Homo sapiens: one gene and its partners. The protein of the gene in region 1 purifies or fractionates together with the protein of each later gene. This does not show direct contact. Each region holds a gene or a part of one and is shown in the gene's direction. Other genes may lie near its edges.

Region 1 (3,500 bases):
GAGATCACCTAAAGAGGAGGAATCAGAATTTAGGTTGGGGAAGAAAAGGGCAAGGGTTTCATTTGTCCCTGTGCTTCTGTCTTCTGGGACTCTCTGAGGGGTAAGACAGTGGTGGGCACACACAGCCAAAGGAAGCTGGGGTACAGGGGAGTGCGACTCTGAGTGTGGAGTTTATTACTTGGCAGGAAGCACTTCTAGTCTTTAACACATGCCCGTAAATGCCATTGGGAAGATTTGTTAATAAAATTATCTGGAAAGATTTGTTGAGTACCTTTTCTGTGCCAGATAGGTTAGGTTATAAGCATATTACAGGTAGCCTTTCACTCACTGCTCCAGTCAGCCCTTCCTGGAGTTCCCTGTGTCTCCACCACGCAGATGAGGAGACTGAGGCTAAGGATGGAATCACTGGGCGAGTCGGGGAGGGGTTGTGATCTGGAATCTGTCGGGTCTCGCTGCTCCTCTGCTGAGGTCAGCCCTCACTGGGAGTCACTGTGTGAGTAGTTGGCTTTCTCTGAATCCCCCCAGCGGGTGGATTTGGGCCTGGAAGACAAAGTTGGCGCTCCTGTTTGTGGCTTGTAAGGAGTGGTTGGTGTTTCCAGGGAGGAATCAATGCTGCTCTGGGGAACATGGAGGAGGACAACTGGAGGTGGCATTTCTACGACACCGTGAAGGGCTCCGACTGGCTGGGGGACCAGGATGCCATCCACTACATGACGGAGCAGGCCCCCGCCGCCGTGGTCGAGGTGATGGGCGGGAGGCTCTGGGTGTTCTCGTGGTCTGTTTCTAGTACAAAAGAATCCTGGAAAAAAATGTAAGCAATTGAGGCGGATGTGGCAGCCAAAAGAATGGTGATGAGCAAAGTTCACAAGAAGAGTCTTTTTCCGTTATGAACTATGCATTATATGTAACAAGAAAACTTCTCTTTGATGAAGTGTTGACATTTTCATAAAATAGGTTACTTTGGGTTTGCAGATTTGTGTTAAACTTGTTTAGTGTAGATTAGCTGCGAATATCTTGACTCCTTTAAGGTGTTAAGGTTTTTGTTTGTTTTTATCTTTCACAGCTAGAAAATTATGGCATGCCGTTTAGCAGAACTGAAGATGGGAAGATTTATCAGCGTGCATTTGGTGGACAGAGCCTCAAGTTTGGAAAGGGCGGGCAGGCCCATCGGTGCTGCTGTGTGGCTGATCGGACTGGCCACTCGCTATTGCACACCTTATATGGAAGGGTAAGGCCGCCCCCGTCCACCTGAGACAGGACACGTAGTGCTGGGGCTTATGGTGACAGTGGGGAATGGGTTAGCGTGCCCAGTGAGTCAGCCAGAGATTACGTAAAAAGCAACAGAGAACAGCAGCGTGGGGCGCATGCAGCGACTGTGGATGTGACAGGACCAGACGTGTGCCTTGAGGAGCTGTCCCTAAGGCAGTGTGTGACTTCTTGCATCTATGTCAGAAAGTTGAATCGATAATCTTACATACCAGGTTTTAACTTGGGATATGTGACACTCAACATACAAGAGCAGAGCAAGCAGGCCAGGCACAGTGGCTCAGGTCTGTAATCCCAGCACTTTAGGAGGCCAAGGCAGGAGGATCACTTGAGACCAGAAGTTTGAGACCAGCCTGGACAACATAGCAAGACCCTGTCTCTACAAAAAGTTTAAAAATTAGCTGGGCATGGTGGTACATGCTTGTAATCCCAGTTACTCAGGAGGCTGAGGCTCCTGGATCACTTGAGACCAGGAGGTTGAGGCTACAGTGAGCCATGTTCGTACCACTGCACTCCAGCCTGGGCAACAGGAGACCCTGTCTCAAAAAAAGAGAAAGAACAGGCTGGGTGCGGTGGCTCACGCCTGTAATCCCAGCACTTTGTGAGGCCTAGGCGGGCAGATCACAAGGTCAGGAGTTTGAGGCCATCTTGCCTAACACTGTGAAACCCCGTCTCTACTAAAAATACAAAAAAATTAGCCAGGCATGGTGGCAGGCACCTGTAGTCCCAGCTGCTTGGGAGGCTGAGGCAGGAGAATGGCGTGAACCCAGGAGGCGGAACTTGCAGTGAGCCGAGATCGCACCCCTGCACTCCAGCCTGGGCAACAGAATGAGACTCCATCTCAAAAAAAAAAAAAAAAAAAGAACAAGTATTTTAAGTCTCTTTTACCACCTCTGAGTTCCTGAATGGATTGGTTTTGTTTGTTTTGTTTTGTTTTGTTTTTGAGACGGAGTCTCACTCTGTCACCCAGGCTGGAGTGCAGTAGCACAATCTCAGCTCACTGCTACTTCCACCTCCTGGATTCAAGTGATTCTCCTGCCTCAGCCTCCCGAGTAGCTGGGACTACAGGCGCACGCCACCATGCCTGGCTAATTTTTTGTATTTTAGTAGAGACAGGGTTTCCCATGTTGCCCAGGCTGGTCCCGAACTCCTGAGCTCAGGCAGTCCACCTGCCTTGGCCTCCGAAAGTGCTGGGATTGCAGGCGTGAGCCACCGCACCCGGCCATGGATTGTTTTAATATTAACTGTTAACACTGAAGAAAGACTTGAGGTGACAATAGTTACTGGGTAATCAGAGTCAACTTTGGCATGGCCAAATAATATTCTGAACGGTATTGATTCAGAGTAATCAATATTCTGAACTTTGTTGTTTTCTGATGCATGGGGACGGATCGTTAATTTGCAGGTTGTTAGAACACCAGTGACTTCTCTGTGGCTGAGTGCATCGACAAGTGTGTGGTGGGAGGAGACCGCGGCTCCATCTGGAGCAGGAGCTGTCATGTGGGGAGCTGGCCCAGGCTTACAAGAGCGACTTGTGCTGGCTGAGGGAACGGCAGGTCCAGGCGGGCAGCGCTGTCCGGCGCCTACCTTTCTGCGGTGCCGGAATCTGCTCGTCTGCAACCGTCCGCTTTGGTAGCTGCCAGCCACATGGGGCTGTTGCTAATGTGGCAGGTGTAGCTGAAGAGCTGAATGTTTTGACTTATTTTAATTAATTAAGTGGTTATGTGTTGCCAGTAGCTCCCATCTGGGCTGTGACTGCATGGTCTGCGGACCTCACTCTGGCACCAGACTCCGAGTGGAGCTGCATGCGGCCACCGGACAGTGTGGAGTGCCTCTTCGGGTTGTGTAGAAGTAGGAAATGTGTCACCAAAATAGGAGCTGTTGCTGCTGCGTTCTCTAGCACACCTGCCTTGTCTGTACTGCTCGGCGTGGAATGCCTCTCGGGCTCTGACAGTGTCACTGACACTGTTGCTGATCTCCTTGGATTTACCTGGTCCATTTGGATCAAGTTCTTTCACCTATTCACATGAGCAGATACCACCTTAAAACCTTAAAGTTTGGCTTAACACTTCTTGCCCTTTTTTTTTCCTTTCTTTTAGTCTCTGCGATATGATACCAGCTATTTTGTGGAGTATTTTGCCTTGGATCTCCTGATGGAGAATGGGGAGTGCCGTGGTGTCATCGCACTGTGCATAGAGGACGGGTCCATCCATCGCATAAGAGCAAAGAACACT
Region 2 (3,500 bases), on another chromosome or scaffold:
AAAATCAAACTTAGAACTACCGTTTGACCCAGCAGTTCCACTCTTAGGTGTGTATCTAAAGGAATTGAAAGCAGGGACTTGAACAGATATCTCTGTAACTATGTTCATAGTATTATTAACAGTAGCCAAAAGGTGGAAACAACCCAATGTTCACAAACAAATGAATCATTAAACAAAATGTGGCATATACATCCGGTGGAAAACTATTCAGTCATAAAAAGCAATTAAATTTTAATATATGCTACAACATGGATGGACCTTGAAAACATTATGTTTAGTGAAATAAGCTGGACCCAGAAGGGCAAATATATGATTCCACTTATATAAGGTACCTAGAATAGGCAAATTCATAGAGACAGAAAGTAGAATAGAGGCTATCAGGGACTCCGGGGACTAAGGGAGAAGTCATTGTTTAGTGGGTACAGAGTTCATTGTGGGGATGATGAAAATGTTTTAGGTATAGATAGTGGTGATGGTTGTACAACCTTGTGAATATATTTTTGTTGTTGTTTTTGTTTTTGAAATGGAGTCTCACTCTTTCACCTAGGCTGGAGTGCAGTGGCACACTCTCGGCTCACTGCAACCTCCGCCTCCCAGGTTCATGTAATACTCCTGTCTCAGCCTCCCGAGTAGCTGGGATTACAGGCACACCACCACACTGGCTCATTGTTGTATTTTTAGTAGAGATGGGGGTTTCACCATGTTGGCCAGGCTGGTCTTGAACTCCTGACCTCAAGTGACCAACCCCCCTCGGCCTCCCAAAGTGCTGGGATTACAGGCGTGAGCCACTGTGTCTGGCAGTGAATGTATTTAATACTACCAAATTGTACACTTACAAATGGTTAAATGAGAAATATTATGTTATATATATTTTACCACAGTAAAAAAAAAAGAAAGCAAAAACCTGCACTTTTCAAAAGCTAATCATCTATTTGACATAATGGTAGGCATTCAACGTAAGTCTTGTATCACTCAAGTTTATGTTGAACCTACCATCCCTTAGAAATTTCTGACAAACATCACCAAATACAGCAGGTACTCTTCAATCCTTGTTTTATTTGAACAATCCACAACCTTTGACAGTGTTAACTATTGCTTCTGGAAATCTCCTGCCTTGATTTCCATTATGCTTTCATTAGTTTCATTTTTGTGTGTGTATGTATGTGTGTGTGTGTTGTTTTGTTTTGTTTTGTTGAGACAGGGTCTTGCTCTGTTGCCCAGGCTAAAGTGCAGTGGCATGAACACATGGCTCACTGCAGCCTTAACCTTCCCAGCTCAAACTGTCCTCCTGCCTCAGTCTCCTGAGTAAGTGAGACCACAGGCACATACCACCATGCTCACCTAATTTAAAAAATTTTTTTGTAGAGATGAGGTCTTGCCATGTTACCCAGGCTGGCCTCAACTCCTGGGCTCAAGCAGTCCTTCTGCCTCGGCCTCCCAAAGTGCTGGGATTACAAGTATGAGCCACCATTCCTGGCATGCTTTCTTTAGTTTCTCACCCTATTTCTTCACCAGTTTCTTCCTGGGCTCCTTTTTGAGCTCCTCTGCCTCCGCCCAACACCTAAATGTGGGTATTTGCCAGGCCTCTGTTCTTAGCCCCCTAAGTATTCCAAGGGAGATTTCATATTTCCCTAAAATGATTAGATTTATTTGATTGATTGAGGCAGAGTCTCACTCTGTCACCCAGGCTGAAGTGCAGTGGCGCCATCACAGCTCACTGCACCCTCAACCTCCTGGGGTTCCCTACTCAGCCTCTCCTGTAACTGGGGCTACAGGCACGCACCACCACACCTGGCTAATTTTTCTATTTGTTTCTTTAAGAGATAGAGCTCAGTATGTTGCCCAGGCTGGTCTTGAACTCCTGGGCTCAAACGATCTTCCCACCTCAGCCTCCCAAAATGCTGAGATTACAGGCATGAGCCACCACGCCCGGCTTAAAATGATTTTAAATATCACCTATGTGTTGGTGATTCATACATTTATACCTCTAATCAGACCTCGTTCCTGAGCATCACTCTCCTGTCTCCATTTGCCTCCTGAGTATCTTTCTTTGCACATTCCAGAAGTCTCAAAATTAATATTTCTAAAACTAAAGTCATCGTGTACCCATTGTTCCAACTCACCTTCGGCCCTCCCACCTGCCTGATCTCATATCCTCCTCTTCCTTCGGGATTTCCAGTCCACCCCATCTACCAAGTCACCCAAGCCCGAAATCTGGGGATAATCTTTCACTCCTGCCTCTTCCTGTCTCCTGTGACTGATCACTAACCAAGTCCTGTTGCTTCTACCCTTTTAACATCTCTCAAATTTATTCCCTCTTACTCATCCTACCAGTAGGGCCCAAATTCAAGCTGTCTCTAGCTCCACTGGTCACCTAACAAGCCTCTCTGCTTCCTCGTTTCCTTCCTTCTAGTCTTGTCTCCCTGCCTCTAGTATGTACTTTATTCTAAGAAAACTGTGTAGGTTGTCTCCTTGAAAAGAGTAGATTTCATTATTAAGATCATAAAGGAAAATGTTTGTAGCTAGGCACCCTGCTTGACATAAAGATGAATAAGAAAGGAAGATGAGATAATGTAAATAACGATGAACAGGACATCATGTGGTAACTAGCATGAGAGATACACAAAAAGATCAGAGGAAAGTCGACAAAAGAGATAACGTTTGAGCTGGGGTCTAAGGAAAAATAATTTTTTGTTTTTTTGAGTTGGAGTCTCGCTCTGTCACCCAGGCTGGAGGACAATGGCGCAATTTCAGCTCACCGCAACCTCCGCCTCCCGGGTTCAAGCGATTCTCCTGCCTCAGCCTCCTGAGTAGCTGGGATTACAGGCGTCTGGCACCACACCTGGCTAATTTTTGTATTTTTAGTAGAAACGGGGTTTCACCATGTTGGTCAGGCTGGTCTCGAACTCCTGACCTCAGGTGATCCACCTGCCTTGGCCTTCCAAAGTGCTGAGGTTACAGGTGTGAGCCACCATGCCTGGCCGGAAAAGTAAAATTTTTATAAGTAGATAAGGTGTGGTGAGGAGACATTTCAAAATACCTGGAGAAAGCTATGGTCAAAGAGAAAGAGGCTGCAGAACATTAACACTTACAAGACACAGCTAATGGGCCTCTTTGGCTTCAGCATAAATTATATATATATTTGATTAATACAGGGTTGTCCAATCTCTTGGCTTCCCTGGGTCACATTGGAGGAAGAATTGTCTTAGGCCACACATAAAATACACTAACAACAGCTGATGAGCTAAACAAAAACAAAAACAAAACAAAACAAAAATCACACAAAAAAACTCAATGTTTTAAGAAAGTTTATGAATTTGTGTTGGGCCACATTCAAAGCCATCCTGGGCCACATGCAGCCCGTGGACTGTGGGTTAGACAGGCTTGGATTAATTGAATATAAAGCTAGACACACAGGTTCAGCTCAAATCTGGGAGGGCCTGAAATCCCAGGTTACAGTGTAAGGGCTTTATGCAGTGAGCAGTGAGGAAATGTATTTG
Region 3 (4,277 bases), on another chromosome or scaffold:
AGGGCTAGAGACTGGGCTTTACTCTGATGAAAATCCCTGGAGGCTTTTGTTGAGCAGAGGAGTGAAATGATCCGATTTACAGTTTAGATTGTTAAAAGAAAAACTTTAAACAAGTTAAATCTAATAAAGTTTATTTGCACGAGCGCACGTGCACACACACACACGATTTATGAGGCATTCATCAGGCAGCAGCACTTAACAGGGAGAGGTTCAGAGAGCTCTACCCAGCACTGTGGGCAGGCAGTATTTATAGACAGAAAAAGGAAGTGCCCCACAGAAACAGCTTGATTGCTTACAGTTGGGCTAGTCTTATTTGGGCAGGACATTATGACGTATTTGCCTTATATGCACATAGTCTGATCAGTTGGCAGCCTGTGATTGGCTGAAGCTCAGCTACTTGTCACAAGAATATACTCTCAGTTGCAGTTAATTTACATACTAAGTTAGGTTGCAGTTCCCTACATAGCAACTCAGAGTAGGGAGGAAATTTTAGGCCAAATTTAATTTAAATTATGTTGGAGCATGACCAAAGTTGGTCATGACCAGAAGCTGAACACAGATATGGAAGCTAACACAATATCCAGTGGAGAGAGATTGTGGTAGAGTACATGGGGCGAAATGGTTGATTTCTGCATTTTTGTTGGTGACGCCATCAGGATTTGCTGAAGAACCAAACGTGTGACAGGAAAGGACAACACAAGGAGCTGCCAGCTTTGGAAACCAGTTCTACTCTCAGTATTACCTTCGCAAAAGATAGAGCTTTGTAAATTTCTAGATTCCTCGTTCTTATTATCCTAGACTATTTAACCAGAATCTCCAGGGTCGTGGTCCTGGAAACAATACGTTTAAAACTCTTCCCAAGGATCCTTCAGCAGCCAACTTGACTTTGGCTAAGGAGTCCGCCAGCTCTGGGCTCACTTGGGTTGTTTGCAAGGAAGAGCCCATGCCCAGAGTATAAATTGGGAGAACAGCGCTGTGCAAAGAGCGTGGGTTGGTGAGCTAGTGGATGGCGAGATTAATCTCACTCTGATCCCTAAAGCAGGGTGCAGTAATACTCTAAATGCCTCAAATGGGTTGGGAACCATGGAAGGAATCCCGGAGGAGCCCGATCTTAACGAAGCTTTTCTCAGGCCTTTGGTAGGAGGACAGAAACGAAGTTGAATGAAAAAGACAGTGGAGTGGGACTGAGAAATGACAACGGCCCACCACAGACCTCTCTCTTTCAAGGCCTGTGTCGTCAGGACGCAGGCCAGAAGAAGCCACGACGAGGCGCAGGCGCGACTCCACGAGGGCCACGCCCCTCCTAGAGAAGGACCGACCCGTTTTCCGCCCGCAGCGGAGCTTGGGTTTCCGGGAGGACCTGATTGTGCAAGGGACCAAACCGGATAGAGGTCGCGCGCCCTCTTTCGTCTGCCTTCCGGTTCACTAATACGCAAGTTCGCAGAAGTGCGGGAACGCGCCGTCCCTCTGCGCAGGCGCAGTCGGCGGTCGGCGTGGGGCGCTATGCCGGGGCGGCACGTTTCTCGAGTCCGGGCATTGTACAAGCGCGTCTTGCAGCTGCACCGTGTTCTGCCCCCGGACCTCAAATCCCTGGGCGACCAGTACGTGAAAGACGAATTTAGGAGACATAAGACCGTTGGTTCTGACGAGGCACAGCGTTTCTTGCAAGAATGGGAGGCAAGTGACGCTCCCTTCTCTTTGCCCAAGACCTTTGGGGTTCCTCGGTGTCCAGGTTTCTAGTTCCAGTCCCCCATGCGGGGTTAAACAGAGCAGCAACCTGTTCTGTTTGAAATAGCGTAATGCTGTTCAGGTAACACTTTCCAAAGTTTCTCCCACGGGTTTCTCACTAGAGCAGATCCTGTTACTTCAGCGTCCCCAATTCAGTTCAACTTTTGAGCTCCTGCAGATGCCAGGTGCTCAAAGGGTGAGGGTAGGAGGTCACAAAAATGAGCAAGTCGTCGTTAAGTGCTCAAAAACCTCAGGAGCTTTTTGTCCTTTTAAGTGCCTTTGCACCTAGTAAGCGCCCATTAATAAATTAATGGTTCTCTTATTAGTTTTCAAATTTAAAGGCTTATTTCCGTAATTTATTATTTAATCTCAGCGCTTTTGGTTGGGTTTAAATAATTTTCTCACTTGGCTGATACAGAAATCAGGTAACATGAAAAAGATTACAAAAGGTTGGAGATTACAAACTGTGAAGGAGAAAAATGCTGGTGGCAGTTAAGTCAGGCGAAAGTTGTTTCCTCCGGTCTCAAGTCATTGTTACTTCGCCCTGCACCATTGCGCTAAATATTAAACAGACACATGCATTAGCAATAAGTCGTTTGACTTTTTTTTTTTTTTTTTGAGTAAAGGAAAAAAGATATTCAGAGTATTTCGTGGGGCTCGGGGCCCTGCAGGATTGCCCCTAGTTTTCATTTGCAAATATAAATAAATGAATGGAATTAGAGATTGGAATGACAGCTCAGATATTTGAAAGCATGAGTTGGAGCTGATATGAAAATAGAGGTAAGCGGTTCTTCGGCCTAAATAGTTGAAGGGGAGATGACTGAAGTCGGCTTTGTAAAAAAAAATCAAAAGAATGGTTAGGGTGAACACAAACTTTGCACTGACTTCCAGAATTCTTTTTTGTATAATTATTGAAGCTTTTAAGAGCGACATTTAGAACAATCGGGAAATTTAGAACTTTCTTGAAAATCATGGTGTATTTGATGTAATTCGCTTGCCTGAAGCAGGGAAGTTGAAGCTTTTCAGACACAGAGCACTTTATTTTAATAAGGTAATTTGGTTTTGGAGCCTGAAGAACTGGATTCAGATTCAGTCTCTGACATTTTAAGTGTCAGATCACATAATTTTTCTAGTCTTATTTTCTCATCTATAAAATAATAAGTGTTTATGCATCTCAAAATTTACGTATGTAAATGTATTTACAAGCACTTGTGTATTGCTAATTGTTATGAAGCTATAAGATACTGTATTAAAGTATTTTACATCTTTTATGGTAGGTCATTTTGTGGCCGTACAGGAAGGAGAGTAGCTCTCTGTTGGGAGGAAATAAGGTTATTTTAAGAAGTCTTAAAATGTAAGCACATGGAAGCCTCTTTGGGAAAAAGTAGGAAAGAGTAGCAACTCAGAAAAAATTGATAATAGGTTGTAGGAGAGAGAGAGGGTATAAAAAAGAACTGCATAAATAAAAAATGTGTTAGTTGACCTAGTAGGCTTGGTAACTGGGATTGAGCTTTTTAAAACTTGGAATAATTTTAGACATACAGAAGAGTTAGAAAGACAGTAGAGAGTTCCCTACATCCTGTTTCCCCCTGTGTTAGCATCTTACATAATCAGGGTACAGTGATCAAAAACAAGAAATTAACATTGCTACAATGCTGTTAACTACAGACTTTATTTACAATTTGCCAGCCCTTTCACTAATGTCCTTATTCTGTTCCAGGATCCAATGGGGATTCTACAATGCATTTAGTTATTCTTTTTCCTTAATCTCCATTCTGTGACAGTTGCTCCGTCTTCCTATCTTTCATTACCTTGATACTTTTTTGAAAAGTACTAGTCTGTTACTTTGTGGAATGTATCTCAATTTGAGTTTGTCTGATGTTTTCTCATGGTTAAATTGATGTTATGCATTTCATAACATCTCAGTAAGAATACCACATGGGCAAAGTGTTCGCCTCAACACTTAATGTCAGAGGGCACATGATACTAACATGACTTCTTACTGGTGATGATAACTGTGATCACTTGGTTAAAGTAATAATCCACGTGGTGTCTCTACTGTAAACTTACTATTTTCTCTTTTGAAATTAATACATATTTGGGGGTAGGTACTCTCAGGCTTTCAGATGATTACTAGTCTTAGCATTCATTGATGGATTTTGCCATTGTGTTCCAATGGTGGCTCTTTTGTTTCCCTCATTCCTTCTGAATTTATTAGTTGACACGCGTCTGTAGAGAACAGTTTTCCTGTCTTCCCCGACCATTGTTGATCTACTGGAATTAATGAATTGGCAGCTGGGTAAAGATAAATTTAAACGTAGTAATCTCTTTGTATAACATAATTATCACAGTTACAAGGCAGCTTAATCTAAGCCTGGGAGTTAGACGTGGTAGGTTGGATCCTACCAGGAAAGATACTTGAAGAACTGGTCTTTTTGAAAGAGTAGGGCTAGAGAAGATGCTAATGATTGGAGGGGAGAAAAACCTGGCTAGAGAAGTTTTATCACCAGAGAGTAATATACTTAAGACTTCCAAGTCTTTTTCCCCCC
Region 4 (3,500 bases), on another chromosome or scaffold:
ACAGTATATATGAGAAGCCACTTTTCAAAAAGGGTACACTAATTTAGGATTCCATTCACCAGAAACAACTCGGCCATAGTTCAAGCAGATGACCTTTAGGAATCCAAATAGGCCAAGGCCTCACACGACCAAGCCACATCACACGAGCATTCTTCAGTCTCATGGAAGAAGGAATCACACATATCACCTTGCTTTATACACTCGGGAGGGATTATGGAAACCATACAACATAAAGCTATACCTATTTTTATGTGAGCAAGTATCAGCTGCAGAATTCTCTAGCTAAATGTCACATACTAACTTTGAACAAATCAAACCATCATGTAAAATATACAAATGTGTATAATGTCCCACTTCTCCATACAAGTCATTATAACAACATTCACTCTTGTGAACGTGCATCATGATCACAGCCAGGTTCAGCAAGCTTAACCCATCAGCAACAGCTTCCTCACATACTGGCCATATTCAAAGAGTTGTTTATTTGTACCAAGTATCAGAATTCCACACCCAACCATAGTGAGAGCTGATGTCACTTTATAAGTAACAGAGTTTGTCTGACTAAAAAAAAAAAAGAAATCAAGGCTAGTAACTATTAATAGTAATAAAACAATTTAAAAATAAAGTTATACCCATCATTTAAAAAAAATGTCCTCAGGTGGAAACAAAATGTGGCTGGCAGAAGAGAGATTGAATTAGGCAATACAAAACACACACACACACACACAAAGGGTTAGAAGAAAACAAACTGGCCCTAGCTATGAGTTGTTCCTAGAGCCTCGTTGATCTCCAAGCCACCTCTGCCACCAGCAGTGGGTTTAGTAGCCCTGGAATATAATCTGTTGTTGCTCCCACTCTGAGATCAATTTATGCAAGATTCAGCTCAGGTCCGGAAACATCCTTCAGGGAAGCCCACCCTAGAGATGTCCTGAATCCACAGCACCTGTGCGTAAGCTTACCTCGCTATGGCGAAGTCACTATTTGCATATCTCCCACTGAACTATGAGCCCCCTGAAGGCAGAGACCATGTCTAATCCTTTTCTGTATCCCCAGCACCTGAGATAGTGCCAATCCATAGTCAACAATTAAATGTGACGAATGAACGAATAAGAGAATTTTCCAGGTCCTGTACTGGATGCTTTACGTGCATTTCTCTTTCAGCATACCTTTATTCTGCTCAGGCTAGTCAGTCCCAGAAATATACCTGAAAGGTGTCTAGAGCTGTGCTGTCTGTTTTCACATGTGACTATTTCCTGTTTAACTTTAGTTCATTAAAATTAAATGAAATTTAAAATTCAGTTCCTCGGTCACACCAGTCACATTGCTAGTGCTTACATGCAGCATGTGATTTCTGGCTATCATATTGGAGAATGCACATTTAAAAGATTTCCATCATTGCAAAAAGTTTAACTGGACTGTGCTACAGTGTAAGCTTGGTGCAAGCAAAGTGTGTGTCTATGTCTGTCTCGTTTTCCACTGTATCCTCTGCACTAGCACAGTGCCTAGCCCCGAAGAGATGAGGGAGAGAAAGATAAAGGAGGGATGGTGGTAGTAAATGTTGTGGTAATATTAGCAATAGCACTTACTGGGCACCGACTCTGAGTCCCACATTGGGCTATGTTCTGTGCACGCATAGCTTCACCTGATATTCACATCACTACACTCCTGGTATTAACCCCATCTCACAGATAAGGAAACTGAGTCTCAGAAAGTTTCAGTAATTTGCCTATGGTCACAAAGCTGATAGGAGAGACTGAGATTGAAACTCAGGTCTATATGATTTCAAAGCCTTTTCTCTTTATTTATCTTCTCTTTTTTTCTTGGACCTTTTGCTTTACTGCCTCAATAACTGCTGTGTGTTGTGATGTGGATTAGGATTGCCACCATCTTGGCTTCCTGGGAAATCACAGAAAGGGGACTTTTGAAAGCTTTCCAAGAGAAACAATGGGTATAATTTATGACTCTGAATCACATATCAAGAGTGCAAAATTTTGCTCAGGGTCTTAAGAGAACCTGTCCCTGGATGGGTGAAGGAGGGAGAAAGGAACCCATCCATAGTGTGGCCTGACCTGATTTCAGCGTGTCTTGAAATCTAGACTCTCAGAGATGGGAGTAACTACTAAGATCATCTGTTCCAGCTCCCCCAACTGCTCCAACTCCCCACACAACACCATCAACAGATGGCGAGGATCCCTCCAACCTGGACACTCCCAGAGGCCCAGGCTGTGCATGCATGAGCCTCTGCGAGGAAAGAACCCAGAAGCCAGCAACTCTCCCCTCTCCTACTGATGGGAGTTGGTGGATGCTGGCCCCATCTCCTCCCCTGGAAGAGAAGGGGGAAAAGGGCGGGGAACCAAAAACCTACAAGAGCAGACCAGTCAACCACCATAGTCTGTGCTTCTCCTCAGGGAGTCCTGAACCAGCTCTTAAGATCTCGCAACCTATTAATGGGGTAACTTGGCTCTCAAATCCCTGGCCAACGCCCTTTTCACTGCTCCACCCTACCTCATGGGCCATTTGCTCCAGTGCCCTCACTATTATTATCATCACTCTTGTCCTAGTTTTCTCTAATTTCTTTATTCTTAAAGAATAAAGTGCAAAATTTCAAGGGAGTCCTAATCAGCATGGAGAAGACTGAAATTACCACCTCCTCATTCTATTTCCTATTTCTATTAAAACTCTTTAAGGTCTAATTAAGAATCTATACCATTGACACCTGTTGAGCTTAATATCAACTGAAGTAACCCAATTCTCTTTTAAACTTGCTCTTGAACTGCATTGCCCACCTGCTCGCCTTCACCCGATACTTGCCCACACCCCCTCACAGCCACTCTAGAGACTGTGCATTGTTTCTCATTTTATCTTGTTCAGTTCAGTCTGCCTCGCCAACTTGCCCAGATATTTCTGGCTGTGATTCTAGCATCCAGTGTATTTACCGGCCCTCTCAGCCAGCTTCCTGCCATCTCTGAATCTGATGAGCACGACCTCTTCATCTAAGTCATCAATAAAAATAATGAACACTATGGGATTCTGAGGCATTCCACTGTATGTTCCCTAAACATAGATATTAATTCAATAATTAAACAGCACTTACTTAGAAAATTTATTCAGCTTTCTGTACTATAACTGAGCCCATATTTCTTCATCTTTTTCAACATTATTAGAAGAATCTTATCAAAGGTCTCTGATAAACTCCAAATATTCTTCATCACTGGTATTTCCTTGATCTTCCGTCCAATAATCTTGTCAAAGAAGCAATTTTGTTGGTCTGACATAAACTAATTTCAGTGATTCCATGCTGGTTCCTTGAAATCACAGCTTCAATCCTAAAAGCTCATTCCACATCCCATTCCAGAATGTTCCCTGGAATTAACATCAGTCCCTCAAATTAAGACATTTTTATAAATTTTCCCATTTTAAAAAGTAGAACTTTATTTCTCATGAAGGTGATGGTAGTGGTGGTGATGATGGTGGTAATGGTGGTGGTGATGCTGGTGGTA
Region 5 (4,081 bases), on another chromosome or scaffold:
CGTGAAGCTCCAGAGAGCCAAGTCAATGACTGGAATTTCGATAGCACAAAACTGTATTTAAATATAATAACTAACGAATAAGTTGTTCATTAAATAAAACTTGTTGTTTGAGGTACCCATCATTGAATATGGGGGGGTAGAGTCTTGAAGATCAGCTGTTATGGGTGTTGCAGAGGAGATCCCTGCATAGATAGTAGATTGGATTAGAGAGCCTCTTTCAATCCTAAAGTGTACGAATGTGCTTTGTCAAGCATTATAGAAATGCAAAGTAGTATTATTCATCTGATGCAGAAATAAGTGAATTTGTGCTATTTAAATCCTGAAGTGCAGGGATGCTAAATATACATAAGATCTGAATATTAATATAATTGAGTATTTTTTTTGTAGAAATAGGAGTTGCTCTAGCCTGTCCCTTTTACTCCTCTCCACCCTACTCCCCACAAGAGTCAAGAACTTTTGTGCTCTGTTCCCTTCCTTTATCATTTGCTCTTCTTCTTTCTTCAGTCTTGAGTGCTCGGCAGTTGATTCCTGTGCTTGGGTTCCCTAAAACTGTATATATATATATACACATATATAAATCAAAGCGTGTTCTTCCCCTCACTCCGGGTTCTTCTAGCTGTGGGTGTCACCCACATAGCGCTGAAACAACGAACAAGGGAGCATTGTCCTCGGCTAGTGGGCGCCTGGTCCATGTGGCAGCTCAAACCCAGGAATTGTGGGGTCTAATCGAGGTGGTTAGATGAGGCTCCTCGTTTTCGGGAATGGTGGTCCGCAAGGTCTTCTCGAGGCCCCTCTACACACTCCCCAACTTAGGTCACAATTTATGTATCTGTCTGGTTAAAGCTTCGTATTAGAAAGGGAGGGAACCCAAAGTATCTTTTCTCTTCGGGGTCTCAACCGGCCAACCACCACGTTTTTAGGCCGACCTGGGAGGCAGGGGGAACGCAACAGACTGCGAAGTCCTTAAGGAAGAATCTAAACAAGTCCGCCGTTTGCTGTTTGGGAGTGCGATACAAAATGAATATGTACGCAGGTGGAACGTAGACTGCAGATTTTGAGCCAGCGGCGTTTCTGCCGAAATCCTGGCAAATTCCGGTAGAAGTCGGCTGCAGGAGGCGGAGGAGGAGACTAAAAAACCAGAAAACAACCAGCAAACCAGCTAGGCAGAGCTGAGCGGAGAAGCTCCAGAGCCTTTTAAAGAGACTCTCGTCACATGACACCCCCAACCCCGACCCCCAGCCGGCGCGCCTCCGCCCTCGGGTGGCGGGGCCGCCTGGCGTCACTTCCGTCCAGACCGGAACCCAAGATGGCTGCGCTGTTGCTGAGGTGACTTCAGTGGGACTGGGAGTTGGTGCCTGCGGCCCTCCGGAGATCTGAACTGGCCCCTCACGTTTTGCTGATAACTGTTTATCCTGTGCCTGGGCAGGGAAAGGACCCATGGGTGTGGAGGCCAAGCGCTCGGGGATCCTAGAGACCCCTTTTCCCGTCCCCCCCAGCCGCTCCGGTGCGCTCCGTAGGGCTTCGGGGTCACTGACTTCGTATCGAGGGGCCCTCGGCTCTCGCCCCTTCTGTTTTCCCCACCTCCTCTAGTACTTCTAACGCAAATTGCTCTCGGGCCTGCACCCAGAGCCGAGCTCTGAGAAAATAACTTCAAGGTCAGCCACCCATGGGTCCTACGATTTCGAGAGCGTATTTAGACATTTAGCTTCGGAGAGAGAGATCTTCGTGTATTTTGCCTTTGCTTCGAATGCCTTCAGACACTAGCTGCTCCCACCGTGAGTGGGCGCTGTCTGGGTTCCCAGCGGGCTGCTGGCAAAGGGTGGATCCCTACTGGGGTGGCGATTAGCATTAGCACCCAGGGCGGACCTCTGCTGCCCCAGAGCAACCCGGGGAATTCATTTTTAGTTAATCATTTTACTTGGGAGGGAGAGTGAGTGTCCCAGTTTTTCTCTAAAATGTGAATTAGTTGTCCAGAGAAATACCCTAGATTTTCTTTCATTCTGAACTTTCCGCTGTCTAGGTCTCATTCTCTGCTCAGCCTCTCTAGTCACAGCGACTAGCGCCTTTAGACACGCCTGGTACAAATCCCAGCATAGTTTTGTGCCAGCCTTATTTTTGGAAATTGTTTGTTATGGAAAGTTAGCTTCAATGCTGTTGAGATTTCAATCCCTGATTTCCCCAAATGTGTTCTCATTTCTCTTTCCACTTCAGTCACCCAGTTTAAAAATAGAGGGACTTTGTTTAGTTTTTCTGTGACAAAATGATTCCTCTTGGAGTTGAAATCAGGGTTATCTTAATCCTTCATTTTCTCCCTGTTTTTCATCTCCATATGTATCTTCTGTCTAAGGTATGCCAAGGCTTGTCTTGCCAGTGCTGTCTTCTTTATTCCAGATGGTTTGACCATAATTGAATGCTTTTGAATTCTCTGATATATTTTGGTATCGATGTTAGGGGCTTTTGGTAAAATTAACATTTAGTTTGAAGTGATCATATTGGTTCCAAACAGTTCATTTTAGGAGTTTTGGAATTAGTGTTTAAAAGCTGAGGATCATTATAGTCATTAAGTGTATCCATACAGTATCATTTTGAGTTGTGCAGCGCTGTCCACTGAAGGGATGGGTCGCCCCTCCACACCTGTGGGTGTTTCTCGTTAGGTGGAACGAGAGACTTGGAAAAGAAAGAGACACAGACAAAGTATAGAGAAAGAAAAAAGGGGGCCCAGGGAACCGGCGTTCAGCATACAGAGGATCCCCGCCGGCCTCTGAGTTCCCTTAGTATTTATTGATCATTATTGGGTGTTTCTCGGAGAGGGGGATGTGGCAGGGTCATAGGATAATAGTGGAGAGAAGGACAAAGGTCTCTGCATCATAAGGTAAAGAATTAAGTGGTGTGCTTTAGATACGTATACACATAAACATCTCAATGCCTTGAAGAGCAGTATTGCTGCCCACATGTCCCATCTCCAGCCCTAAGGCGGTTTTCCCCTATCTCAGTAGATGGAATATACAATCGGGTTTTACACCGAGACATTCCATTGCCCAGGGATGATCAGGAGACAGATGCCTTCCTCTTGTCTCAACTGCAAAGAGGCGTTCCTTCCTCTTTTGCTAATCCTCTTCAGCACAGACCCTTTACGGGGGTCTGGGGGACGGTCAGGTCTTTCCCTTCCCACGAGGCCATATTTCAGACTATCACATGGGGAGAAACCTTGGACAATACCTGGCTTTCCTAGGCGGAGGTCCTTGCGGCCTACCGCAGTGTTTTGTGTCCCTGGGTACTTGAGATTAGGGAGTGGTGACGACTCTTAATGAGCATGCTGCCTTCAAGCATTTGTTTAACAAAGCACATCTTGCACAGCCCTTAATCCATTTAACCCTGAGTTGACACAGCACATGTCTAAGGGAGCACAGGGTTGGAGGTAGGGTTACAGATTAAAATGGAGTCTCTTATGTCTGCTTTCTATACGGACACCTTAACAATCTGATCTCTCTTTCTTTTCCCCATAGTCCACACTAGGATTCAATGCCAAGAAAGGTATATTTTTCATTAGTGGTAATCTGAAGCTCTCGTGGAAAGGACACCTCCATTTCTCATAAGGGATTTTTTTAGGAGGATAAATGAGGAATTAAAAATTTTTTTTTTCTTGATAGAAGTTCCCAGTCTAATTCCATTTCACTAGAGGGATTTGGAACTGTTTATAATGTGCTGATTTAACCTCAAAGGAAAATACCTTCTGAGAAATCCTAGGAGCTGATTTCTGGTTCTACATTTATTTTGGACAAGTCAAGGTCATTGATTCCATGATTTTGGTTTCCTCATTTGTGTTGCAAACGGCAATAACTTGGGCCCACTTAAGAGAAATATTGGTTAAACTTTTCTTTTTGTTCTTTTTTTGGGGGTCTCTTTTTTTTTGGTTCTTTTTCTTTTTTTTTTTTTTGAGACGGAGTCTCGGTCTGTCACCCAGGCTGGAGTGCAGTGGCACGATCTTGGCTCACTGCAACCGCCCCTGCCCGGGTTCAAGCATTTCTCCTGCCTCAGCCTTCTGAGTAGATGGGATTACAGCAGGGGTCTGCCACCACGC
Region 6 (3,500 bases), on another chromosome or scaffold:
ACATAACTTATATTTAGAGAAATGACTATGCTAAGTGATTGCACTGATTATCAACTACAAGTGTTTATGTGTATATAGGAAAAGGGAAGCAATAGTTCTTTTGCATCATTGTCAGTAGAAGAACTTTGAAAGCAGTTAAATAATTCCAGTTTTAGTTCAGTGTCATCAGGTATTTCAAGTAAGTAAATCATTTAAGTTAATTCTACAAATGGTTTGGTTTTTTTCTTTCCATTCATTCATGGGATTAAGGTAAAGTTTTTGGAAGTATATTCTATTAAACATAAAGCCTTTGTGAGTGAGATTGGAAATTCAGTTTAAAAGTTCAATATAGAAAATAAAATTATTAGTTTATAGTAACAATAGAAGTACAAATTTTGGTGAAGCACAGTGTTGTGGTAAAAACAATGTTTTTACTACGTTAAGCAACCTGTGGAGTAGTTGACATTGGTTGTGGCACACACACAATTGATCATTACATCTAAACAAGCACCAAAAGTCTTCTATTTTAATAGAAGCTATTGTTACATCAAAATTTACAAATATCTGAATAGTCACAGTCACTGAACTATATGATTTGGGAGTTGTAACTGATGTCAGATAAAAAATACACTTCAGGCCAGGCACGGTGGATGTCAGATGAAAAATACACTTCAGGCCAGGCACGGTGGCTCATGCCTGTAATCCCAGCACTTTCGGAGGCTGAGGCGAGTGAATCACCTGAGGTCAGGAGTTCGAGACCAGCCTGACCAAGATGGTGAAATCCCGTCTCTACTAAAAATGCAAAGAACATTAGCCGAGTGTGGTGGCACATGCCTGTAATCCCAGCTACTTGGGAGGCTGAGGCACGAGAATCGCTCGAACCTGGGTGGTGGAGGTTGCAGTGAGCCAAGATCACGCCATTGCACTCCGGCCTGGGCAACAAGAGCGAATCTCGGTCTCAAAAAAAAAATAATAATAATACACTTCAGCAGAGCAGTATGTGCCTTTTCTCTTTGTTGTCTGTCGTTGATCAGATTTTAGAAATCTTTATAAATCAATCTGTGCCCCCAACAGTGGTATTGAACTTTATTCTAAATGGGTCATCAAAAGTTTGGTGGCATTTGGGCACGGTGGCTCACGCCTGTATTTCCAGCACTTTGGGAGGCTAAGGCAGGCGGATCACTTGAGGTCAGGAGTCTGAGACCAGCCTGGCAAACATAGTGAAACCCCGTCTCTACTGAAAATACAAAAATTAGCCAGAGGTGGTGGTGCATGCCTGTGATTCCAGCTACTCAGGAGTCTGAGGCACAAGAATCACTTGAACCCAGGAGGTGGAGGTTTCAGTTCAGTGAGCCCAGATCACGCCACTGTACTCCAGCCTGGGTGACAGGGTGAAACTCTGTGTCAAAAAATACTACTACTACTACTACTAATAATAATTGGCAGCATTTCGTTCAACATCACTTGAGAATCTTAAATCAAGTATTCAATAAACAGAACACTACATGAGACTTTTAGGGAATTACAATTAATGAAAACAAAACAAAACTTCCATTAGAATTTTTCCTGACAAAAGCAAAGAAGGAATGATATAAACAGTAACAACTCAAACGATATACAAGATTAAAATTTTCAGTTCTGTAGTTGCGATTTGAAATGTCTCACCTTGCAGGAAGAATCTTGGTGGTGCTCCTACTTTGAATAAATTGCACACACACACACACACACACACACACACACACACAGACACACGAAATGAGATTGAGAAGGCCTAGATTTTGCACCATCTAAATTTGGCAAAACATTGAAAAGAATCATAGAGACAACTTATTTGACAAGTTTTGTCTTATAAAAATATTTGTTAGGCCAGGTGCAGTGGCTCACGCTTATAATCCCAGCACTTTGGGAGGTTGAGGCAGGCAGATCACCTGAGGTCGGGAGTTCGAGACCAGCCTGACCAACATGATGAAACCCTGAAATTATCAGGGCATGGTGGTGCATGCCTGTAATCCCAGCTACTTGGGAGGCTGAGGCAGGAGAATCGCTTGAACCCAGGAGGCTGAGGTCACAGTGAGCCGAGATCGCACCACTGCACTCCAGCCTGGGCAACAAGAGCGAAACTCCGTATGGAAAAAAAAAAAAATACTATTTGTTAAAGTAAGATACTCTGATGGAAGCAAAAAGAGAGTGCCTCTAAAAATATTTGGGCTGAAATATTTATACTGTTCAACATTTTTAAAATTAGAATTATGTCCTCCATTTAGCAAATTTACTCTGAACTTATCAGGTAACTTAGAACCTGTAGAAAGAGAATTTTCTCCATAATTGAAAGTATCAGTAATTTCAAACTAACCATAAACTGCAACTGTGAAGAATATTGCGGGCAGTTTTATTTTTAAATACTGTATTTTAATGAACACATTCTTCAGAAAAATGCCAGTGACACAATATTAGAGACAGATATGTCTAAGAAATGGATTAAACTATGTAGATATACATCAATAATAATTCTCATTATTTTTAAATATTCAGATAATCAGTATAAAGAAGTTATTGTTCTATTGTATGTACATGTATGTTATTTTTATTTCTTTTGAAATTTTATTTTTGAAAACAGTTTTTGAATAGAACCTGTTGAGTCCACCAATATAATAAAATCAGCTGTTTGTTTTTGAAATAAATACATATTTATTTCAATATAATAAAATCAGCTGTTTGTTTTTGAAATAAATACATATTTCAAAAAGTATAAAATTTTAGTTGTTTCAGCGCTTCTTTTTACTCTTGTGTCCCAGTTTGCATGATAAATTATATAGTATTCACACTTTAAAGACATTTCTCATAAGTTATATGAGATTTTTCTGCTTACATCCTGTTGACCAGAATTTAATTATATAGCCATACCTAGCTGTAAGGGAAGCTAGAAAATGTAATTTTTATTGTAGGTCATCATGGATCCAGCCAAAAATCTGGAAGATACAGATAAAAGATACTAGGAGACAAGTAACATTCTGCCCTACCTTCTCATCATGTGTTTGCATTTTTGGCTAGCACATATACTCATGAGGTAGACCTGCGGAATTTAAGGGAGAAAGTAGTATGGTACCTTTAATATCTAATTTATATTCATATTTTTTTAAAAGCTAAAGTAAAAAATGAATTGATCCTATTAAGCAGACTATTAGAGAATCTTGGTCAGGCATGGTGGCTCATGCCTATCATCCCAGTACTTTGGGAGATGGAGGTGGGAGGATAGCTTGAGCCCAGGAGTTGGAGACCAGCCTGGGCAACATAGCAAGACCCTGTCTCTACAGAAAAAAAAAACAAAAAACAAAAAACAGGCATGGTGGTGCATGCTGTTAGTCCTAGCTACTCAGCAGGCTGAGGTGGTAGGATTTCTTGAGCTTAGGAGTTGGAGACTGCATTGAGCTATGAATGCACCACTGTTTCTCTAGCCTGGGCAATAGAGCCCCTGTCTCAAAAAAAAAAAAAAAAAAGAAAGAGAATCTGATGTCTCTCTC
Region 7 (3,500 bases), on another chromosome or scaffold:
GCATAGCCAGTCCTAAAGCCTTATGTGGAGCCTTGGGCGGGGGAAGAGGATCAAGAGAACAAATGATGGTCTCCGCCTTGGCTAGCCCCTGTGTGTCTGCCTCTGCCACTGGGGACCTCTTTCTGAGGGCAGGTCAAGGACACATGTGCCGCCTTCACCTGCCTCTTTCAGTTCTGACAGCCATCTGCTTAGCACAGGGCTACTTGCCAGTTCCTACCTGTTTCTGCCTCTGACCCACAACTGCTATGTTACCGGTACAAAACCCCCCACACACAGTGCCCCCTCGGTGAGCCCTTGTTAGGCCTGGCCTGGGCTTCCTAGCACTTCTTTCCTTTAACTCCCACCCCTGGCCGTCACAGTCCTGTGGCTTCCATGTCATATGCTGGACCTTTGGTCTCTAGGATCTCCCCGGCCAGGTGAAGAAGGAACTAAAGGCCAAAGGATCCCGAGCCTTGAGCTGCTAATGATGTAGGGGCTGGGTCGGGGAATGTAAGTGGGTACCTATATATCATAATTTGTAAAATGACTTTATAGGCATATACTTACATCAGGATGTCTTACATAATATGTATATTATATAAAGTGGTGATTAATTGGTAAACACAATGAACATCACTGTTTAGATACTGAAGAACCTAAGACAATAAGTACCTAAATAGTTATGTTAAAAATTCTGTGAACTCTAGCCTTTATGACTAATTACTACAGAATGTAACACTTACGGCTGGGTGTGGTGGCTCACGCCTGTAATCCTAGCACTTTGGGAGGCCGAGGCAGTTGGATCACTTGGGGCCAGGAGTTCGAGACCAGCCTGGCCAACATGGTGAAACCCCATCTCTAGTAAAAATACAAAAATACCTGGGCGTGGTGGTGTACGCTTGTAGTCCCAGCTACTCATGAGGCTGAGGTGGGGGGATTGCTTGAACCCAGGAGGAAGAGTCTGCAGTGAGCCGAGGTCATGCCACTGTACTCAAGCCTGGGCAACAGAGCAAGACTCTTTCTCAAAAAAAAAAAAAAGAATGTAATATATATCTTTAAATATGCAAATTAATGTGATATATAGGGTGTATTTGGTTATAGCATATAATTCAACTATTTATGCAGTAGTTTATAACTAGTTGCTAATACAGTGTAGACATCCATCACAGTCTAAAGAAGACTGGAAATATGTTGATTGCTTAGTGTTCAATGGAAAAACTTTTTTTTTTTTTTGTCTAGGAATGAGGGGCAGTGTCACATAGTACAAAAAGCATTTCACTTGGAGCCAAAATTCTTTGGTTTAATTTTTATTGAAAATAACATGTATCGTGCCATGCTCTGGGGTGTGCTCAGTACTAGCTGAGATGATTCCTAGTCTGAGCTCCCACTCCACTCCACCCTCCCCACTGCCCTGGGAGCATAGAGACTAGAGCATCACTGACTGGTACGCAAGGTGTGATGGTCGCAGCATGCATGGGTGTTGTACACGCACAAAAGGGAGGCATCTGACCAGACTGAGGGATCGGGGGGAACTTCTTAGAGGTGGCATCTGAACCAATTATGCAAATAAGTCCACTCAGTGAAGAAGGGGGCAGAACTTTTTGAGCAGAAGGAACAGTAAGTGGAAAGGCACAAAGGAAGAATGAACATCCAGTGTAGTGAAACTGAAGGCAGCTGCATTTTGGTGGGGCTGGTGAGTGAAGCTGCTCTCCCTCTCCAGGCATTGATTTCTTCAGGTGTCAACTGGGGAGATGGACATGGTCATCTCTGAGAGCCAATACAGTTCAAGTACTGTCCCAAATCTGTAACCGATTATTAGAAACTGGGAAGAGTGACATGGTCATCTCTGAGAGCCAGTCCAGTTCAAACACTGTCCCAAATCTGTAACTGATTATTACGAACTGGGAAGTGACATGGTCATCTCTGAGAGCCAGTCCAGTTCAAACACTGTTCCAAATCTGTAACTGATTGTTACGGACTCCTGTTGAGGAAGAAGAAGGTAAAAAACCCTGCATCCAAGATGAGCCCCCACTTCCACGAAGCTCCCTTCCAGTCAGTTTCATCATTGGCTCTACTGCTCTGATGGATTTTTCAGAACGTTCTGTTTTCCCCCTGTCTTTTTCTAGGCTGTTCTTGCTGGAGATTTAATTCTTTCTGCAGCATCTATAGCTCTGGCACGAATTGGAAATACAACTGTTATATCTATTTTAACCCAAGTTATTGAAGATTTGGTGCGTGGTACGTTGATTCTGATTTTTCTTCTTTGTTATTCAACCCTGGTGTTTAGCCAGGCAATAAAGCCACCTCTCAAATGACTCCTTTCCTTCTTTATAGGTGAATTTCTTCAGCTCGGGTCAAAAGAAAATGAGAATGAAAGATTTGCACACTACCTTGAGAAGACATTCAAGAAGACCGCCAGCCTGATAGCCAACAGTTGTAAAGCAGTATGTACGTTCTGTCTTTCTTCAAGTTAAAGCCTCATAGCTCTTTTTTGGGAGCTAATTTTCCTAGAAAATATTTCGGTGAAGAATCTTAAAATAGTACCCAAAAATCCCAAGAGGTTAATGAGGAAAAGAATGACATCCCCAAACAATAGAGGACTTCTGCTGTGTTTTCATTTTTGCCATCTTCTTTTGGTATGCAGGCGTTGACTTTTCATCTTTTCTTCCCAAGAATTCAATCAAAATAAGCTTTCCCGCACCTTCCCCAATCTGATTGCCAAACTGTATCATTTTGAACAATTTATCATAATTTCTCTAATGATTGATATCACACACACTCTTTCTGACACTTCACCTTTTAGAAATGAAGTGCTCTGTTCTTTAATATAATATTTACTCAGGAAAAGATATCTGTTAGATTGTACTAGCATTCTATGAACTTTTTTTTGTTTTTTTGTTTTTTGTGTTTTTTTGAGACAGAGTCTTTTGCTGTGTGGCCCAGGCTACAAAGCAGTGGTGTGATCTTGGCTCACTACAACCTCCACCTCCCAGGTTCAGGCAATTCTCCTGCCTCAGCTTCCCTAGTAGCTGGGACCACAGGTGTGCGCCATCACACCCAGCTAATTTTTGTATTTTTCATAGGGATGGGGGTTTGCCATGTTGGCCGGGCTGGTCTCAAACTCCTGCCCTCAAGTGATCCACCCACCTTGGCCCTGCAAAGTACTGGGATTACAGGCATGAGCCATTGCACCTGGCCAATACATTGCACCTGGCCAATCCTTCTAATATTTTTACATGAAATATAAACAAGTCCTATTTCTTCAGAGTACAAATTGAGTATAAGCCATAACTGTTTTTCCCCTTGCTTTCTCCCTCCCTCCGCTGTGCATACACATGTATACATTTTTTTTTTAATGAGTAATACCTTTAATCCGTAGACAAATGTGTGGTATTCATCGTTAGTCCAAGAATGAAAAGCAGTCTCTCCATAGAATTGTTTATCTGCCCATCTCTAAGCCTGACAGATACACAGAGACAAAACCTGGACAAATGACATTCCCATGTAATTACAGCCACAAA

Evidence for each region.
Region 2: the proteins of SDHA (region 1) and SDHAF4 purify together in Homo sapiens (affinity purification with mass spectrometry; 2 studies listed by BioGRID and IntAct, with this or other methods). This does not show direct contact.
Region 3: the proteins of SDHA (region 1) and SDHAF3 purify together in Homo sapiens (affinity purification with mass spectrometry; 2 studies listed by BioGRID and IntAct, with this or other methods). This does not show direct contact.
Region 4: the proteins of SDHA (region 1) and DGKG purify together in Homo sapiens (affinity purification with mass spectrometry, with the first as the bait; one large-scale study listed by BioGRID). This does not show direct contact.
Region 5: the proteins of SDHA (region 1) and SDHC fractionate together in Homo sapiens (co-fractionation; one large-scale study listed by BioGRID). This does not show direct contact.
Region 6: the proteins of SDHA (region 1) and PDSS2 purify together in Homo sapiens (affinity purification with mass spectrometry; 2 studies listed by BioGRID and IntAct, with this or other methods). This does not show direct contact.
Region 7: the proteins of SDHA (region 1) and PDSS1 purify together in Homo sapiens (affinity purification with mass spectrometry; 2 studies listed by BioGRID and IntAct, with this or other methods). This does not show direct contact.

What each region holds. Positions count from the first base shown.
Region 1 is NC_000005.10:224,820-228,319, forward strand, and holds part of SDHA (succinate dehydrogenase [ubiquinone] flavoprotein subunit, mitochondrial), read left to right. Parts: intron 1-599; coding exon 600-743; intron 744-1,063; coding exon 1,064-1,228; intron 1,229-3,365; coding exon 3,366-3,500. UniProt on the Homo sapiens protein: Flavoprotein (FP) subunit of succinate dehydrogenase (SDH) that is involved in complex II of the mitochondrial electron transport chain and is responsible for transferring electrons from succinate to ubiquinone (coenzyme Q).
Region 2 is NC_000006.12:70,580,430-70,583,929, forward strand, and holds part of SDHAF4 (succinate dehydrogenase assembly factor 4, mitochondrial precursor), read left to right. Parts: intron 1-3,500. UniProt on the Homo sapiens protein: Plays an essential role in the assembly of succinate dehydrogenase (SDH), an enzyme complex (also referred to as respiratory complex II) that is a component of both the tricarboxylic acid (TCA) cycle and the mitochondrial electron transport chain, and which couples the oxidation of succinate to fumarate with the reduction of ubiquinone (coenzyme Q) to ubiquinol.
Region 3 is NC_000007.14:97,116,221-97,120,497, forward strand, and holds the start of SDHAF3 (succinate dehydrogenase assembly factor 3, mitochondrial precursor), read left to right. Parts: upstream 1-1,477; 5' UTR 1,478-1,503; coding exon 1,504-1,677; intron 1,678-4,277. UniProt on the Homo sapiens protein: Plays an essential role in the assembly of succinate dehydrogenase (SDH), an enzyme complex (also referred to as respiratory complex II) that is a component of both the tricarboxylic acid (TCA) cycle and the mitochondrial electron transport chain, and which couples the oxidation of succinate to fumarate with the reduction of ubiquinone (coenzyme Q) to ubiquinol.
Region 4 is NC_000003.12:186,355,735-186,359,234, reverse strand, and holds part of DGKG (diacylglycerol kinase gamma), read left to right. Parts: intron 1-3,500. UniProt on the Homo sapiens protein: Diacylglycerol kinase that converts diacylglycerol/DAG into phosphatidic acid/phosphatidate/PA and regulates the respective levels of these two bioactive lipids.
Region 5 is NC_000001.11:161,313,100-161,317,180, forward strand, and holds the start of SDHC (succinate dehydrogenase cytochrome b560 subunit, mitochondrial isoform 1 precursor), read left to right. Parts: upstream 1-1,281; 5' UTR 1,282-1,306; coding exon 1,307-1,326; exon of another isoform or gene 1,327-1,775; intron 1,776-4,081. UniProt on the Homo sapiens protein: Membrane-anchoring subunit of succinate dehydrogenase (SDH) that is involved in complex II of the mitochondrial electron transport chain and is responsible for transferring electrons from succinate to ubiquinone (coenzyme Q).
Region 6 is NC_000006.12:107,267,565-107,271,064, reverse strand, and holds part of PDSS2 (all trans-polyprenyl-diphosphate synthase PDSS2), read left to right. Parts: intron 1-3,500. UniProt on the Homo sapiens protein: Heterotetrameric enzyme that catalyzes the condensation of farnesyl diphosphate (FPP), which acts as a primer, and isopentenyl diphosphate (IPP) to produce prenyl diphosphates of varying chain lengths and participates in the determination of the side chain of ubiquinone.
Region 7 is NC_000010.11:26,721,701-26,725,200, forward strand, and holds part of PDSS1 (all trans-polyprenyl-diphosphate synthase PDSS1), read left to right. Parts: intron 1-2,105; coding exon 2,106-2,217; intron 2,218-2,313; coding exon 2,314-2,423; coding exon of another isoform or gene 2,424-2,427; intron 2,428-3,500. UniProt on the Homo sapiens protein: Heterotetrameric enzyme that catalyzes the condensation of farnesyl diphosphate (FPP), which acts as a primer, and isopentenyl diphosphate (IPP) to produce prenyl diphosphates of varying chain lengths and participates in the determination of the side chain of ubiquinone.